Linked DNA regions of Homo sapiens: region 2 is linked to region 1. Evidence: fine-mapped QTL for protein levels in blood plasma. A gene starts in region 1. The other region holds a variant in brackets. All regions are shown on one strand. Distances are between the middles of the regions. Region 1 holds the start of POFUT1 (protein O-fucosyltransferase 1). Region 2 holds the start of KIF3B (kinesin family member 3B).

The links. PIP is the posterior inclusion probability: the model's chance that the variant is causal. Sun 2018 read protein levels with aptamers (SomaScan).
Region 2: its variant is fine-mapped to the plasma level of the POFUT1 protein (Sun 2018, PIP 0.95).

The regions. Positions count from the first base shown.
Region 1 is chr20:32,204,028-32,212,355 of GRCh38, forward strand. It overlaps POFUT1 (protein O-fucosyltransferase 1), which reads left to right and starts at 3,853. Exons shown (of 7, transcript NM_015352.2): 1 at 3,853-4,038; 2 at 6,044-6,165. The coding sequence starts at 3,915. It overlaps PLAGL2 (PLAG1 like zinc finger 2), which reads right to left and starts at 3,716. Exons shown (of 3, transcript NM_002657.3): 1 at 3,614-3,716. RefSeq lists enhancers at 1,722-1,771, 3,687-4,600, 4,063-4,192 and a silencer at 3,503-3,922.
Region 2 is chr20:32,269,787-32,278,114 of GRCh38, forward strand. It overlaps KIF3B (kinesin family member 3B), which reads left to right and starts at 7,865. Exons shown (of 9, transcript NM_004798.4): 1 at 7,865-7,979. LOC124904885 (a long non-coding RNA gene) reads right to left here and starts at 7,757. Exons shown (of 2, transcript XR_007067561.1): 1 at 7,518-7,757; 2 at 5,633-5,856. RefSeq lists enhancers at 576-1,107, 7,621-7,670, 7,717-8,227 and silencers at 7,881-8,040, 8,061-8,240. The variant CTTTTTTTT/C (reference allele first, on the strand shown) is at 5,262.

The sequences.
Region 1 (8,328 bases):
ATTGTTTAAGTCCCCTCCTCCTTTGCAAGGGTGGAATTACCTGTTTGTAATACCAGCAATTACTATGCACCTTGGAATTGAGCAGAGAGTGTGCTCGAGTGTGCATGTTTAGATTGGAGGGAATTACCCCTACCTTCAAAGTCAAATTCTACTCCCCCTTCAATTTGAAATCATGCACCTCAGCCTCTGGAAAGTTGGGAATGGCAGCCAGAAGGAAACAAGTCACATCAATTTGGCTGATGTGAGAGAGGAGCCTAGCCCTGGAAACTCCACACAAACTCAGAAAGAGAACATTACGTCCCCACCTCCCACACGTCCACCTCATCTGTTCTCCTGAACAAGCACAAACAAGACACAATAGTTTAGTAGGCTGCTACTGAAAGAGTGAGTAATGGGCTTCTAGGAAAGAGGCTGGTGGTGGCTAAGGAGCTTGTACTGATAGAACCAAAGGAGGAAAGCAGCAGCCATGTGCTCACCTTGATCTGCTTTTAATGGGGCTATGTCTTCACAAAGAAAAGAGCCAACACCCTGATCCTACTCTCCTACACTTTTCAAAAGGCACAGGAAGTCCCTACCTACAGTCACCAGCAGCCTCTTGGATAACCAAAGCTGCTAGTGTTACCTAGGAACCCTTTTGGGGATCTAGTCTCTCTCTGCCCTTTGTCTGAAAACTCCTCTGATCCAGAAAGATTCCTGGGTTTGTCTTACATAAGCAGAAGGCCTGTTCCTTCAGACTTGTCCTTCCTCAGCAAAACTGTGAAAGAATTCTACTTCTCTTTCAAAGCTGCTCTTCTGGTCTCACATTTTAATCTTAACAACTATAGACTATAGAGAAGCTGACAGAACCTGTTTCCATAAAACAAACACAATCCTTCCCAGTTACTGGCACAACTCAGTATATTTTCAGCCTAAGATTCTTTCTAGTGCCTGATCTGAAAGGGGAAAGAACCTTGGACTTGCTATCAGAAGAGCTGCCACTTACTGGCTGGGAAACCATAGGCAGGTTACTTTATTTCTCTGAACCTCAGTTTCCTCAATTTCTAAAATACGGATTTATTTTCCTTACCTGTAAGATTCGTATAGAGGATTAAATGAAATAATACTCTTGAAAGTGGCTGATACAAAATGTGTGCTCTGAATACATGCAGTGCCTTCTCTGAGGTCTCGGCTGTGTCTGCCTCTTTTTCCGCATGAGGCCTGAATAGTACTTCTTTTTTTCCTCTTTAATGTTACTTCTCAGGCCTCAGAGTGAGTTTCCTTCCTTTCCCAACATCTCCCCCAGAATGCAGTCTTCCCCTTTTCCCTCACAACTAACCCTCGGCACATCCCCTTTAAAGAGCCCCTTACTTTACCTCCCTCCAGGCACCATCTCCTGGGCCAGAGTTCTCTCTTAAGCAGAGAGCCACTTTCCTATACTCTCTTGTATTATTAGGGCTCCATATCCCAAACAGGAATGCTTGCTAAAAACTCTGTATGGTCCTCTTTGAAAGCTGAAACTGAGACATATTTCTCCCCAGTCTGTCCGTCCCCTGTTATGGGCCATGATGCCTGCTGCTCTCTGATGAAACTATAGTTTTTATGGTGTTACATCATCTCTATAGAAACTGCGTTCTTTCTCCATTATTAGCCTGTTTCCTCATCTGTAAAGCTAAAAATACTTACCTCACAGGCTTGCTGTAAGGATTATTTTAGTGAGGTATGCAAAGGGCTCAGCACAGAGCTTGGCCTGCTAGAAGTACCCAACAAAAGAGAGCTATTATCTTTGTCTTTGTATTGAGTTGCATGTTTCCACCTTCTGCTGCCACACTCAAATTCTCCTCACTCCCCCCTAAAAAACAGTTGAGAGATAACACCCCTGCACAAGGAAAGGGTTAATCTTTGAGTGTTCTTAACTAAAGAGACCCACAGAGGATTAACAGCTCCACTTCAGTGACTACCCTAAAATAGCTTTTATCCTCCTGCCCAAGAGTTACTTGGGGATCTGAAGAACTCAATTCAACACCTGCCGGAGGAAATAGACCCAGAACGTTCCTTGGGATAGAATCTTCCCTTAAGCAGAACCCAAAATAGCAACTGGGAAATTATAAATAGACTTAGAGGAAAGAAAAAACAAAACAAAACAAAACAAAAAACAGATCCTGATCTCAGAACCAGAAACAAATCCTAAAACACACTGGTTGGCTGGAAAACAGTGAGAAGAGGGGAAATGGGAATGCTGTCGCCCCCTTCCCCCCCGCCCACTCCAGAGTGGTGGGAGAATTAAATTACAGGGAGGCTGGAGAGTCTCAATGACTTGCACCATTCCAAGAAACATCAAACAGGATTAACAGGGGTTGGATTTACTCTCAGGCTGCTAATTCTTCTGTCAGTGTAGATGGGCCCTCTTTGGAGTCTCTTTGATTCACTATTTCCTCAGATTCCTGCTGCCTCCCACTCCTGGGGAGGCCTTGAACAAATGGCTGCAACTCATCACAACCCCATTTTCATGGGGAGAAAACGTGATTCGACACCCCCGCTCCCAATCTGGTGGCCTCACCTTAGGAGAGAAAGGTTAGAAACCCAAGACCAGACTCTACACACAGTCCCATGGCTGACAGGTGGAAAAACACACAAGCCAGGAGACAGGCTAAGCTTGCAGGTGAAAGCACCGATTCCCCCACACAGGTGTCCCCATATCCTCCACCTAACAGGCCCCTTTCTCCCCACCAAGGTGGGCCACAGCCTGGTCCCAGGCCAACTTTTAGATCACCCCACTGTGGTGTGGGAAAGGTTCAATTCCCCGAGCCTGGGAGAGATGGGAGTGGATGAGGGCTGGAGAAGCAAAGGAAATCCAGGGAGAAGTCTGGAGGGAGTCTCTGGGATGGGAAGGAAGAGCGAGGATGGGAAGGAATCATGAGCAACTTTCCTGGGTCTCTAAGGGATCCCCACAAGAATGAAATGGGGGATTATAAGGGCTGGAAGGCTGGGGGGATGGGGATAGTCAGAAGTGTATCCTCTGAATTTCAAGAGGGTCTCAAAATGGGTAACGGGATGGAAGATGTCGAAAGCCTGGGAGTATGGCCACTGAGGAGGGAACTACAGGTGGGGCTTATTCGACTTCTCCAGACCCAGATATTTGAGGGAAGCCTCAAAGGGAGTTATGTAAGTCTGGAAAATGAAACAGGGTACAGAGCGGGCTATCTGGAGCAGGAAAGGGGGTTATGTGGGTCTGGGTAGGCGTGTCGGAGGGAGGGAGCAGGTGCAGCTTATCTGCGTCCCCCAGACCCGGGTCCCTGGTAAGGTCAGCAGCGCCTTATCTGGGTCTCCAGGGAGCCTAGGGGTCGGGAATGGGGGACCCTCAGGACTGCGTCTCCAGGTCTCGGAAGGGAGGGGACCGGTGGCTTCCTCGGGTCCCCCAGACACAGGTATGGGGTCCAGGGAGAGTTTTCGTCACCCCAGGGCCTATCTGGGGCCGGGTTGGCGCAGACCGGGCCCCGGGTCGGGGGTGTGGGCGACCGCGCTGAGGGGCCCGAGATGAGGCGCGCCGCCGCTCCGGGTACAGGGCGCGCGGACGCAGCGAGACGGCCTCCCGCCCCTCTCCCCGCCGTCCCCTGGGGCCCTCGCCGGCACTCACCGCGCTCGGGGCCCCACGCTGCGGGCCGGGCCGCGCTCGGGCTCCGCCAGGCCCCCTCAGGCCCCGGTAGTGGCGGCGGTCGGGCCATTGTGCGGTGCATTGTGGGAGCCGCGCGAGCGGGCGCTCGGGTCGTGGAGGGGGCGGTGCCGCGGGATCTCTATGGTCCCGCCCGCCCGCGGGCTAGAGCGGCCGGGGCGGTGCGCGGGCGGCGCGCAGGGACCGCTGGGAGCGGGGCGGGCGCTCGCGTCCCTCCTTCCCTCCCCGACTGTGCGCCGCGGCTGGCTCGGGTTCCCGGGCCGACATGGGCGCCGCCGCGTGGGCACGGCCGCTGAGCGTGTCTTTCCTGCTGCTGCTTCTGCCGCTCCCGGGGATGCCTGCGGGCTCCTGGGACCCGGCCGGTTACCTGCTCTACTGCCCCTGCATGGGTAAGGCCTCCCAAGCCCTCTGCTCAGATGGAGAAACTGAGGCCGGGAGAGGAAAAGCCACTCCTCAGATGCGCCCAGAGACACCTTCACAGGTCCAGGAGAGAACCTCAGAGCGGGACGGGGCATGCTCTTCTCCTCTCTGCCTTAGTTGCAAGGGCACAGAGGGGCCAACGTGTCCAACTTTCCATTTGACAGATGAGAAAACTGAGGCTGGGAGAGGTTACGTGACTTGCTTGAGGTCTAAGCCAGTCCAGGGTCCAGTAAATGGAGTTAGTGGGGCAGGACTTGATGTCACTGACCCACGCTGGCTCCTGGTGATTTTTCATTGATTCAGCAAATATTTATGGGGCACCTATTCTGTGCCGGGCCCTGTTCTCTGTACTGGGAATACCGCAGTGAATAAGATAAACTCCGTGTCCTTGTAGAGCCTTCATTTTAGTTGGGGAAGACAAACAATTGAGAATAAGTAGGCCAGGCGCGGTGGCTCACTTCTGTAATCCCACCACTTTGAGAGACCGAGGCAGGATCACTTGAAGCCAGGAGCTCGAGATCAGCCTAGGCAACATAGTGAAAATCCAATCTCAAAAAAAAAAAAAAAAAAAAAAAGCAGAGCGTGGTATCGTGTGCTTGTAGTCCCTTGGGAGTTATCTGGGCGGCTACTTGGGAGGCTGAGGTGGGAGGATCTCTTGAGCCGAGGAATTCGAGGCTGCAGTGAGCTCTGATCGTGCCACCGCACTGCCAGCCTGGGTGACAGAGTGAGACCCTGTCTCGAAACAAGCAAACCCAAAAAGGGGTAAACATAAAACAATAAATACATAGTTTCATAGAGGATGATGAATACTAAGGGAAAATAAAGAGAGCAGGGTAGGGGAGAATCTAAAGACCATGCCAGGTGCACAGTTGAAATGGGTATGGTGGATCATCATTGTGGAAGTGGATGATCTTAAGGCCCCCAGTGGCTTCCAGACTCCTGACCATGACTTTCAGGGCCCTGAATGATGTGGCCTCCACTGGCCATCTCCACAACTCCCTTCTCTGCTGATCCTCCAGCTGCAGCCACACTTAACTCCTTTGCGTTCCTCACACATGCTCAGGTCTTCCAGTCTGCACTGCTGCAGGTGGCGGTCCCTATGCCTGGAATCCTCTCCTCCATTTCTGCCTGACCAGCTGTTTCCCATCCTTTAGATCTCAGCCTAAATGTCACCAGAAAGGATTTCACTGACCTCTACCCAAGTAATCTCCTCATTACCCTATCACCAAACTTTTTTCATCTCTTTCTGGCAATTATCAACATTTTTCATGTATTTGTTTACATGTTTAGTGTCTCTGCAGTGAACTGTGAGTGCCTTAGGGGCAGAGGCCTTGTCCTTCTTGTTCATTCCTGTATCCCAGCACCTAGCACAGAGTCTGGCACATTGTGGCCTCTCAATCATATTTGTGAAATGAATGAACAGGTGCCATGCTGGGATTAAGAAAAGGAATCACACAGGGTCCTTGCTTCTGAGGCATTCACAGGCTGAGGAATCAGCCAGTACGAAGGCCAGGAAGTGAGCAAAGATACTTGAGGAAAATTGAAGAACTGAAGTAGCTCAGAGCCAAGGTGGGAGGTAAAGGAGGGAGAGTGAGTATGGCAGGGGATTGGTGAAAGGAGCCCAGTGAATGAGGCATTCGAGTTGCCCGTCCATGTGCAGGTGAATGGAGATAGAGGTAGAAGCTCTTCTGGCTGAGGGACAGCAAGATCAGAGGCATTGGGTGGGGATGGGAATTGTAGAGCATGTTGGGGAAACAGCAAGAAACCTGGAGTGGCGGAAGCAGTTGTTGCAGGACCTGAAGAGCCTTGGATATCAGACCCAAGAGTCCAGACTTGTTCTTATGCTGCCAGCTCCCCTAGTTCTCCTTGGTATCCCTGACTTTCTACCCCTGGCTCCACAACCTTTCTGAGCCCTGCATGCTCTATGCCCTCCATGCCCCAGGCCTCACCTCACCCGCAATGTACCATTTCCAGGGCGCTTTGGGAACCAGGCCGATCACTTCTTGGGCTCTCTGGCATTTGCAAAGCTGCTAAACCGTACCTTGGCTGTCCCTCCTTGGATTGAGTACCAGCATCACAAGCCTCCTTTCACCAACGTGAGTACTTCCCACTGACCTTGGCCTTTCTCCGCCCTTTCTCAGTCTTGCTTACTTACACTTAACCCTCAAGTCCTCTGGGCTTTACCTCCCACTCCTCTGAGATTTCCCTACCTCCAGCCAGAACTGTCTTCACTGCAATAACAATGCCTAACATTTATTTATCCAGCACCTGTTGTGTGCGGCTGCATGAGAATTAGCTCATTTCACCCTCATCACTTGCCTGTGAGGAAACCGGGGTTTACAGAGGTTAGGTAACTTGCCCAAGATCACACAGCCTGTGAGTAGGAGAGCTGGAATTCAAAGCTATCTTTGTCTGACTCCAGAGCCTGTGACTTGAACCTAAAGCCTCCATTTCCTTCCCTGATTGGTCCTACCCTCTGTGCATTCCATTGGCCAAGGGTGGCAGATGCTATTATCAATTTTAAAGGAGACATGCAGGCACAGGTTATTTAATGACATGTCCAAGGCCACAACCCAGGTAGTCTGGCTTCAGTGCTGCCTCTCACCCCATCAAGGGGCTCCCTTGTCATGCGATGCTCACCGGCCCCCAGTTCCTTGCTTATTCTTTGTGTCTTCCAGTGACCTTGTGTCGTTGTTCATATTGTATCTCCCGGAGCCTGGCAGTAGGAACTTAATTAGTATTTGATGAATTGACTTAATAATTTTCCAATAGACATCAGAAATAATACTTAGTGTGAACAAAACACTTAATTTCATTCTTACAACCTTTTCTCTGCATAGATTTTACTTTTTCCTTTGCATGCCAGTATTTACAGAGGTTTTGAGCAGCAGTCAAAAGCCAGAGTACCAGAGATCATAGTCTGACTTGGGTTCTTACTAGTTGCATGGCCTGGACAGGGTACTTTACCTCTTTGTGCCTCAGTGTCCTCATTTTAAAAATAAGCTGGTAATGATTCTTGTTACCCTCTTGTGGTAAGGACTGAATGTGTCAGTGGCAGTAACACGCCTTCAGTGTTGTCATATGCCGCCTCCCTCTTAGAATCAACTGAGCTTATCAACGTACAGATCCTAGAGTCCTCAGTTAATGGAAACCATTGATGTTCTGATAATTTCGCACTCACTATTTTTTTTTTTTTGAGATGGAGTCTTGCTCTCTTGCCAGGCTGGAGTGCAGTGGCACGATCTCAGCTCACTGCAACTTCTGCCTCCCGGGTTCAAGCGATTCTCCTGCCTCAGCCTCCTGATTAACTGGGACTACAGGCGCACCACCACGCCCAGCTAATTTTTGTATTTTTAGTAGAGACAGGGTTTCACCATGTTGGCCAGGATGGTGTCAATCTCTTGACCTCATGATGTGCCTGCCTTGGCCTCCCAAAGTGCTGGGATTATAGGCATAAGCCACTGCGCCTGGCCTCGCACTCACTATTACAGTGTAGACATTGCCCATCCATCTCCCTCTGGCTTGCTTGCCTCTGTCTCCTTGCCTTCTCAGCCAGTTGTCTTTCCAAGTCCCCACTTCCTTGCTTTCTGTGGCTTACTAACCTGCTCCAACAAGGCTCTTCTTCGCCACTGTTAGCATTCTCACTGAGGTCACCAGTGACCTCCAAATTGGCAGGGGTTATTTCCCAGTCTTTCTCTCACCTGACCTCCCACTGGCACTTGACCCTGCAAGCTTCTCCTTCCTGAACTTCCCTGTTCCAAGACACCACCTGTCCCTGCTACAATCTAACCTCTCAGCATTTTCCTCTTTCCACTGTATCAGGGGCTCCTTTCTCTCCACCCACTGTTTAGATGTTAGTGTTTCTCCTCTTTCTGTTTGCTTACTAGCTATGTGACCTCAGATGTTATCTAGATTCTGTATGCTTGGGTTTCTTCATAAGTAACCTGGAGATGGTTATATTCCTACCTCAGGATTAAATGTGCAAATCTATGTAAAGTGATGAGTGCAGTACCTAGCACTGTGTCAACATGCAATAAATATTAGTTGCTATTATTACCATTACTTGCTTTGCTATAAATATCTGTTGACTCCTGTGGCTTTTACTCTTCTCCGTGTACCTCCCAAATTTATCTGTGGCCCAGACTCAGACTCCTCCATAATTACAGGCCTGTGTTTCTTTTTTCTTTTTTTTTTTGAGACGAGGTCTCACTGTTGCCCAGGGTGAAGTGCAGTGGCATGATCATCGCTCACTGCAGCCT
Region 2 (8,328 bases), 66 kb after region 1:
TAATTTTTTAATTTTAATTTTTAGGGATGAAGTCTCTCTACATTGCCCAGGCTGGTCTCAAACTCCTGGTGTCAGGGGATCCTCCCACCTTGGGCCCCCAGGATGCTGGGATTACAAGCATGAATTACCTCGCCTGTCAAATACATGTTTTTAAATAAGTGTACTGCGTGCAGTGCACCAGCCACTGTGCTAAGCACAGAGGATACAAATAAGTAACATAAAACCCGGTCCTGGGACCTAGGTGGTAGTTTTGGTCTGTCAAGGGATTTTATGACCTCCTCCTGGCTCTAAGACTTTAATATCACTGTTTTCTTGGCCAGGCACAGTGGCTCACGCCTGCAATCCCAGCATTTTGGGAGGCCGAGGCAGGTGGATCATTTGAGGTCAAGGAGTTCGAGACCAGGCTGACCACCATGGTGAAACCCCATCTCTACTAAAAATACAAAAAAAAAAAAAAAATTAGCTGGCCATGGTGGCACATGCCTGTAATCTCAGCTACTAGGGAGGCTGGGGCAGGAGAATCGCTTGAACTCGGGAGACGGAGGTTGCAGTGAGCCGAGACCATGCCACTGCACTCCAGCCTAGGCGAAAGAGCAAGACTGTGTCTCAAAAAAATAAAAAAAAAAAGAGTATTGTTTTCTTTATTTCAGTATTACTATGTATGGGCCTTACAAATGGGAAAGCATTTCACACCCATTCCCTGGGTAAACCCTCACAGCAGCCCTGAGGGAAGCAGGCAGGGAAACGAGGTCCTGAGGGTGAACTCACTTGCCCAAGATCACACAGCCAGTTAAGTGCCTGAGGAGGAAGCAATTAGCAGCCAACTCCTGTCTGGCTTTCTTCAGAAAACATCAAAGATGTGAATTTAGAAGCCATTAGCTTGATCCTCAGCCCTTAGAGCCTCCCTGAGGTCCCAGAGTTCCATCCATTCTGAACCTGGGCACTCCGCCAAGTGAGAAGCATCAAGCACAGCTCAGGTGCTTGGCTTCAGTCCAAGCCCTACATCTTGTTTCTTCCTGAAAGGGGCGCTGGGATGTCACCTCCTTGCATTCTAATAAATAGTTCCCTTTGCAGTCTTTTTATACAACCCCTCTTCAGCCCTCCTCCCCAAATGGTATTAAATTTCCAGGAATACTGAACTCTCTCACCAGCATGACTTCTCACATTTACAGTGATTGCTTTGCTGGAGGGCACCATGACTCCACTGATAAAGAAAGGAAAGACAGCCACCATTCATGGAGAACGTACTAAGTGCATCTTTTTTTTTTTTTTTTTTTTTTTTTTTTTTTTTTTTTTTTTTGAGACAGAATCTTGCTCTGTTGCCCAGGCTGGAGTGCAGTGGTGTGATCTCAGCTGATTGCAGCCTCAACTTCCTGGGCTCAAGCAATCCTCCCATATCAACCTTCTGAGTAGCTGGGGCTACAGGTGTGCACCACCATGACCGGCTAATTTTTGTATTTTTTGTAGACACAGGGTTTTGCCATGTTGCCCAGGCTGATCTTAAACATCTAAGCTTAAGCAGTCCACCGGCCTTGGCCTCCCTAATTACAGGCGTGAGCCACTGTGCCCAGCCCCAGACCATATTTTAGTTAATCCTCACAACAAACCTAAGCAGTTGCATTTCTAGCTCCACTTTGCATATGAGAAATGTGAGTCCCAGAGAGGTCAAGTGATGTGCACTGGGTCACTCAGCTAACACATAAGGAATGGAGCTGGGATTCAAACCTTTGACTGTCTGGACCCCGCAGTCCATGCTTGTCATTTTCATAGCTCAGAGATGCACTGTCCAATGTGATAACCACTAGCTGCATGTGGCTGCTTAGGCATAAATTAATTAAAATTAAATAAATACAATTCAGTTTTTCAGTAGCACTAGACTCATTTCAAGTGCTCAATAGCCACATGTGGCTGTTGGCTGCCTTATTGGACAGCACAGATATAGAACATGTCCACCACGGTGGAAAGATCTGTTGGACAGCGCTGCTCTCAAATGTGAGAGAAGAAAGAAAACATCGTGATTTTACCCTTGCATGGGGAGCCAGGCCATCTGCCACTTGTCAGCTTTGTAGAGAGTTCATCGGAAGTTATTTTTCCTGGATGAGATCATAATAAAACCATCCATGGGTGTCTGGGCTATGTTTTACCTTTCTCCTGGTTTGGCCTCCATTCATCCCCATCCATGATAGATGCAAGCATGCCCTTTCCCACACTCCCCTGCTGCCACCCAGTCGCCAGGTATCTAGTGCCTTTCTCTGTCATACAGGATTTGGGTTATCTTAGTCACTAAAGTGGGGCATCCTCACAGGACAACTCAGATGGAGACTGAGCAAAATTTTATAACACAGTGGGCTTAATTCCAGCTGGGTGGTCCCTGGGCGACATGCCTGCCACTGGGGAGGAGGGTCCTCACTGACTGACGTTGAGGAGGAGGGCTAACGGAGTTTCTTGGCAAAGGGGATGTCTGGTTATAAAGGGATTCTTCCCCCCGCTTAGCAACAGAACCCCCTCCCTATGTCTGGGGACTCCTTACTTTGTGAACGGAAGGCAGTCTTCTTCCTACCATAGAAGCCAAAAGGTCAGATGTTTGTCTTTACAGCTTCCACTGCAGGTAGGAGATGGGCATGTGATCAAGGATCAACCAATTAAGGCTTGGGTTATAGAGGTCGAGACTGTGGGGAATCCTTATGGAGAGGGAAGGTGAGAATGGTCTTGAGACAGTGCCCATGGCCAGGTAGCCATGGTGAAAGCAGGGCAACTAGTGTTCTCACCATACAAGTCCAGTAGTACATGGTCCCACGTGGCCTCGCCTTTCTTATTAGTGGCCACTTCTAGAAACTTCCTGGTGATTTTGTGGCCTTCCTACTACCCTGCTAATAAATTCCTTTTCTGCTACCATCAGAATTGGTTTCTATTATTTATGATATCTATTATTATGATAAACTGACACAATGGTGCTCGCTGGAATTAGATCATTTCTAGGCTAGAGTTTGCTCTTGGGGAGGTAGGAAGGAGGATCTCTGCTCTGGTCCATGTGATCTCTCCAGGACCCTTTTTTTCCAGCCCCACTGGCCTCCTTCCTCTTTTTGCATCCTCACCATCTCTCCCCTTCATTGAACTGAGCAAATCTCCAGAATTGAGAGGTTTGGAAGCCCTACTCTGACTTTTCAAAACTTCTTTCATTCCCTGAGTCTCCTCCCCAAGATTCTGGGGCTCAGAAAGTCCTTTCTCTATTTTTCTACTGAAATAACTCTTTTCTGAGCAATAAATACCTCACAGTCCAGGTTAGATGGAAAAGAGGACACAGTATGGAAAGGAAATGCCAGGAGTGGAAACATACTTGGTAATATAGAAGTTACCCCATCATACTAGGGTGACCACTCATCCTAGTTTGCCTGGACTAAGGAGTTTCTTGGGACATGGAACTTTTGGTGCTAAAACAGGGACAGACCTGTGCAAACTAGAACAAGTTAGTCACCCTACAACTGTACAGCTACTACTACTAATCCCACTTCAATACACAGCTTTATTCAGCTTGCTAAGGACAGAATCAAGACCAGACCGTCATCAACAATGCCTTACCAAAGTTCTTTTTTCGGCCAGGTGCAGTGAGTGGGTCATGCCTGCAATCCCAGCACTTTGGGAGGCTGAGGCAGGTGGATCACTTGAGGTCAGGAATTCGAGACCAGCCTGGTCAACATGGCGAAACCCTGCCTCTACTGAAAAATACAAAAATGAGCCAGGCATGGTGGCACATGTCTGTAATCCCAGCTACTCAGGAGGCTGAGGCATGAGAATCACTTAAACCCGGGAGGTAGAGGTTGCAGTGAGCTGAGATTGCGCCACAGCACTCCAGCCTGGGCAACAGAGCAATATTCTGTCTCAAAAAAAAAAAAAGTTGTTTTAATTTTCATTTCTTTAATATGAGTAAGCATAAGTATCTTTCCTTTTCCTATGTTTAAAAGCAATATTTTCTATTCCTTTTCTCTGAACTATCTGTTCATACCTTTTACCTACCTGTTTAAAAAAATTTTTAAATAGTTTTTGTACATATTTATGGGGTACATGTGCAATTTTGTTACATGCATAGAATGTGTAATGATAAAGTCAGGGTATTTAGGTTATCTATCACCCAAGTATTTATCATTTCTATGTGTTGGGTACATTTCAGGTCTTCTAGCTGTTTTGAAGAACACAATACATTTTTGTTAAATAGCAGTAAACACATCCAGTTAAACATAGTGGATTGATGATGCGTATTTATTTTTTTCTCCCTCGAACCCCATCTATATGGCAATAAGGAATAAAAAATGTATTAACCCAGAACATGAATAGGAATGAAAAGGAGACATTAGTGGCCCAGGGATTTCAGCAAGTTTTTAGAAAACAGGGACAGAAGGGGAAGTAGTAACTGACTTAACAGGGGGAGGAAGTTATGACCCAAATGTCTGCAGGGAATATTGATTTGATGACTAAAAGGTGAGCCCAGATTCTTCCATAGAAGAGATAGACACTAAAAATAAAGATATGGATGGAAATCTCCCACAGAGTAGAACAAAAGAGCCAAAAAGAGGGACAATAAGAGAAAAACAGAGAAAATTAGAAACTCAGTTTGGAAAGTATAACTTCTGACTAAGAGAAATTCCAGAAAGAGAAAAAAATGGAGGGGAGAGCCAAGTCTGGTGTCTCATTCCTGTAGTCCCAACAGTTTGGGAGGCCGAGGCAGGGGGATTGCTTGAGCCCAGGAGTTTGAGACCAGCTGGGCAACACAGTGAGACCCCATTTCTACAAAAAATAGAAAAATTACTCAGGCATGGTGGTATGCACCTGTAGTCCTAGCTACTCGGGAGGCTGAGGTGGCAGGATCACTTGAAGCTGCAGTGAGCCATGATCATGCCACTGCATTCCAGCCTGTGCAACATAGCACAACACTGTTTCAGGGGAAAAAAAAATAGGAGGGGAGAAAATTATCGAAAAAATAATACAAGAAAATTTCCTAGATTAGAGGGATATAAGTCTCCAGATTGAAAAGGCCCAGCTAACACAAGTGAGGAAAAGCCTCACTGAGGGGAGTCATCATCAAATACAACATTATGGATAAAGATGATAGCCTAAAAGTTTTCAAAGATTAAAAATAAAAAAAGAACAAGACACATATAAAGCAACAGGATTAAGAATGGCATTAGATGTCTTAAATCTGGATACTAGAAACAATAATGCAATGTTTTAAAAATTCTGAGAGAAATAATTTTCAGCCTAGATTT[CTTTTTTTT/C]TTTTTTTTTTGAAATGGAGGCTCCCTCTGTCGCTCAGGCTGGAGTGCAGTGGTGCAATCTTGGCTTACTGCAACCTCTGCCTCCTGGGTTCAAGTGATTATCCTGCCTCAGCCTCCCCGAGTAGCTGGGACTACAGGCATGTGCCACCATGCCCAGCTAATGTTTTTTTTGTATTTTTAGTAGAGACAAGGTTTCAGCATGTTGGCCAGGCTGGTCTCAAACACTTGACCTCAGGTGATCTGCCTGCCTCGACCTCCCAAAGTGCTGGGATTACAGGCATAAGACATGGCGCCTGGCCTTCAGCCTAGATTTCTATACCCTGCTAAACTATTAATCAAGTGTGAAAACAGTATAAATGCATATTTAGACATACAAGGACTAAATATATTTGCTTCTTTGCAACCTTTCTCAGGAATCTACAGAAAGATGTGCTGCACAGAGATGACAGAGTAAATCCACAATCTAGAAGTTTGAGACACAAGGTCCAGGGCACAGGGAATCCCAACCAGGTGTAGGATATAGGAAAGTTCAGTATGACAGCTGTGCAGTAGGCCTGGAGAGCACTGGTCCAGATCAGAGCTGAAGCCTTCAGGAGAAAAAAACAAAAGAGAACTCATGAACTTTTTTTTTTTTTTTAAGTTGTTGTTGTTTTTGTGAGATGGAGTTTTGCTCTTGTCACCCAAGCTAGAGTGCAATAGGGTTATTTCGGGTCACTGCAACCTCCACCTCCTAGGTTCAAGCAATTCTCCTGCCTCAGCCTCCAAAGTAGTGGGGATTACAGGTGCCTGCCACCACTCCTGGCTGATTTTTGTATTTTTAGTAGAGACGTGGTTTCTCCATGTTGGCCAGGCTGGTCTTGAACTCCTGACCTCAGGGTGATCTGCCTGCCTCAGCCTCCCAAGGTGCTGGGATTATGGGCATGAGCCACCATGCCTAGCCGAATTGTTATGTTACACATCTGGAAAAATCACTGCTGATTATTTTGTCTAATTTATTAACCACATAGGAAAAAATTAACAATATCTGCAAAGAAAGCTAATGAAAGGGGGGAAAAAATGAGGCAATTATTAGCTTCAGGAAATACCAAAAGAGGCTGGGTGCAGTCTCTTTTGGTATTTCCTTTATTATTTTATTTAAAAATAAACTTCTTCACTGTAGAGAAAGTGTAAATCAAATTATGTGGGAGTTTTAATGGGCCAGGCCTGAGAATAGCACACATCACATTTAATTGGCCAGAACTTGGTCTGAACTGTAAGGAAGGCTGGGAAATACTGTCTAGTTGTGTGTCCAGGAGCAGGAAGAAATAACGTTTTTGAGAGGAAGTAGCAATATCTGCCACAACAGGCAAAAAGTAGTTGTAGGCAGATGAAGAAGACCATCTCAGGTATTCATTTATTCAAGGAGCAAAACATATTTGTTCAGCAACTACTATTGACTAAGCTTGGTTCCAGGCATGGTGGATACAAGAGTGAACAAATAAAAGACTGCTCTTATGCAGTTTCTATTTAGTGGGGAACAGCAGGTGTAAGTTCCATGGGGGTTGGAACCTGCCCTTCTAGGCCAGTGTGGTTGGAATAGAGTTTTAACGAATTTTGCAGGAAGTAATAAGGACTTCATATTTGATTCTAAGAGCAATGAGACTCCATTAAATCGAGTATTAATCAGAAAGTGGCATGATCTGTTTTATTTATTTATTTATTTATTTATTTATTTTAATCTTTATATCTGAGACGGAGTTTCGCTGTTGTCGCCCAGGCTGGAGTGCAGTGGTGCCATCTCTCTCACTGCAACCCCTGCCTCCCGGGTTCAAGCGATTCTCCTGCCTCAGCCTCCCGAGTAGCTGGGACTACAGGCATGCGCCACCACGCCCGGCTAATTTTTTGTATTTTTATTAGAGACGGGGTTTCGCCATGTTGGCCAAGCTGGTCTCGAACTCCTGACCTCAGGTGATTCACCTGCCTCAGCCTCCCAAAGTGCTGGGATTACAGCGGGAGCCACCGCACCTGGCCGCATGATCTGTTTTAAATAATTACTCTGGCCACCTTATGGAAAATGGATTGTTCGGACAGAGCTGGACAAAAGAATGGAAACAGACCAGATATTTCAGGCAGGCTAGAGATGAGCGTGGCCTGGCCTTGCCTGGGGCGGTTGTGACTGACTGGATTGGGTGAAGGACAGGAAAGCTACAACAAGGGTGCCTATAGGTGTTCGTATTGAGTCACTGGGGGCACCCTAAATGGGAGTTACCTCAGTAGCAGTTTGAGACACCAGTCAGATAATGGATGTGAAAGCTTTTAGAAAGGTTGAACGGCGGCTGAAATCGCGTGTGTTCCATTTACAGATGGGAAACTGAGGCACGAGATACCAGAGGATGGAGTCAGGCCACGTTGTGCGCCACTCTCCCCGCTTAGGTGGGTGAGGAGACCGAGGTGTGTTGGGCCCCCGCTAAACACCAGCACCGACCTGAGCCCCGCCCAGACCCCTCCAGCCGGCTTTCCCTGTCCTCTGCTCGTGTGCCAATAAAGTTATTGAAATTGACACCGGTTGCTAAGGAAGTGGGTCGCCGAGCCAGGTTGCTAAGGAAGTGAGCGGCCACTGTCTCTCCCCATCCGGGGCAGCGGGGAATGGCTGAGCCAGGGGTTCGCCGCCCCCGCCGCCGCCGCCGCCGCCGCCGCCGCCGCCGCCGCCCGCTTTCGGCTCGGGCCTCAGGTGAGTCGGAGGGGCCGGGCGCCCACCGAGCAGGGCTAATCCTGTGGCCGCCTGGGGTTTTCCCTGCGACCTGCGCCCGCGCCTCTGCCTGGCTTTGCTGTCCCGCGAGCCGGAGCATCCTCTGCCCTGCCTCCTAGGCATCCTTTGGTAGTCCGGACGGCCTTGCCCCTCCTTCCCCTGGCAGGGTCGCGGCCCGACCCCCAGACACGGCCACCTTGGGTCGCAGCCCACCTGGGGGCCCTGAGGCGGTGGTCAGGGCCCCAGTTTGGGAGGAGGGCGGGGAAGCGAGAGCCTGGGGTCCGAACCTCGGCGCTGTGCTGGGCTTGCTGTGTGACCTTGGGCAAGTCTT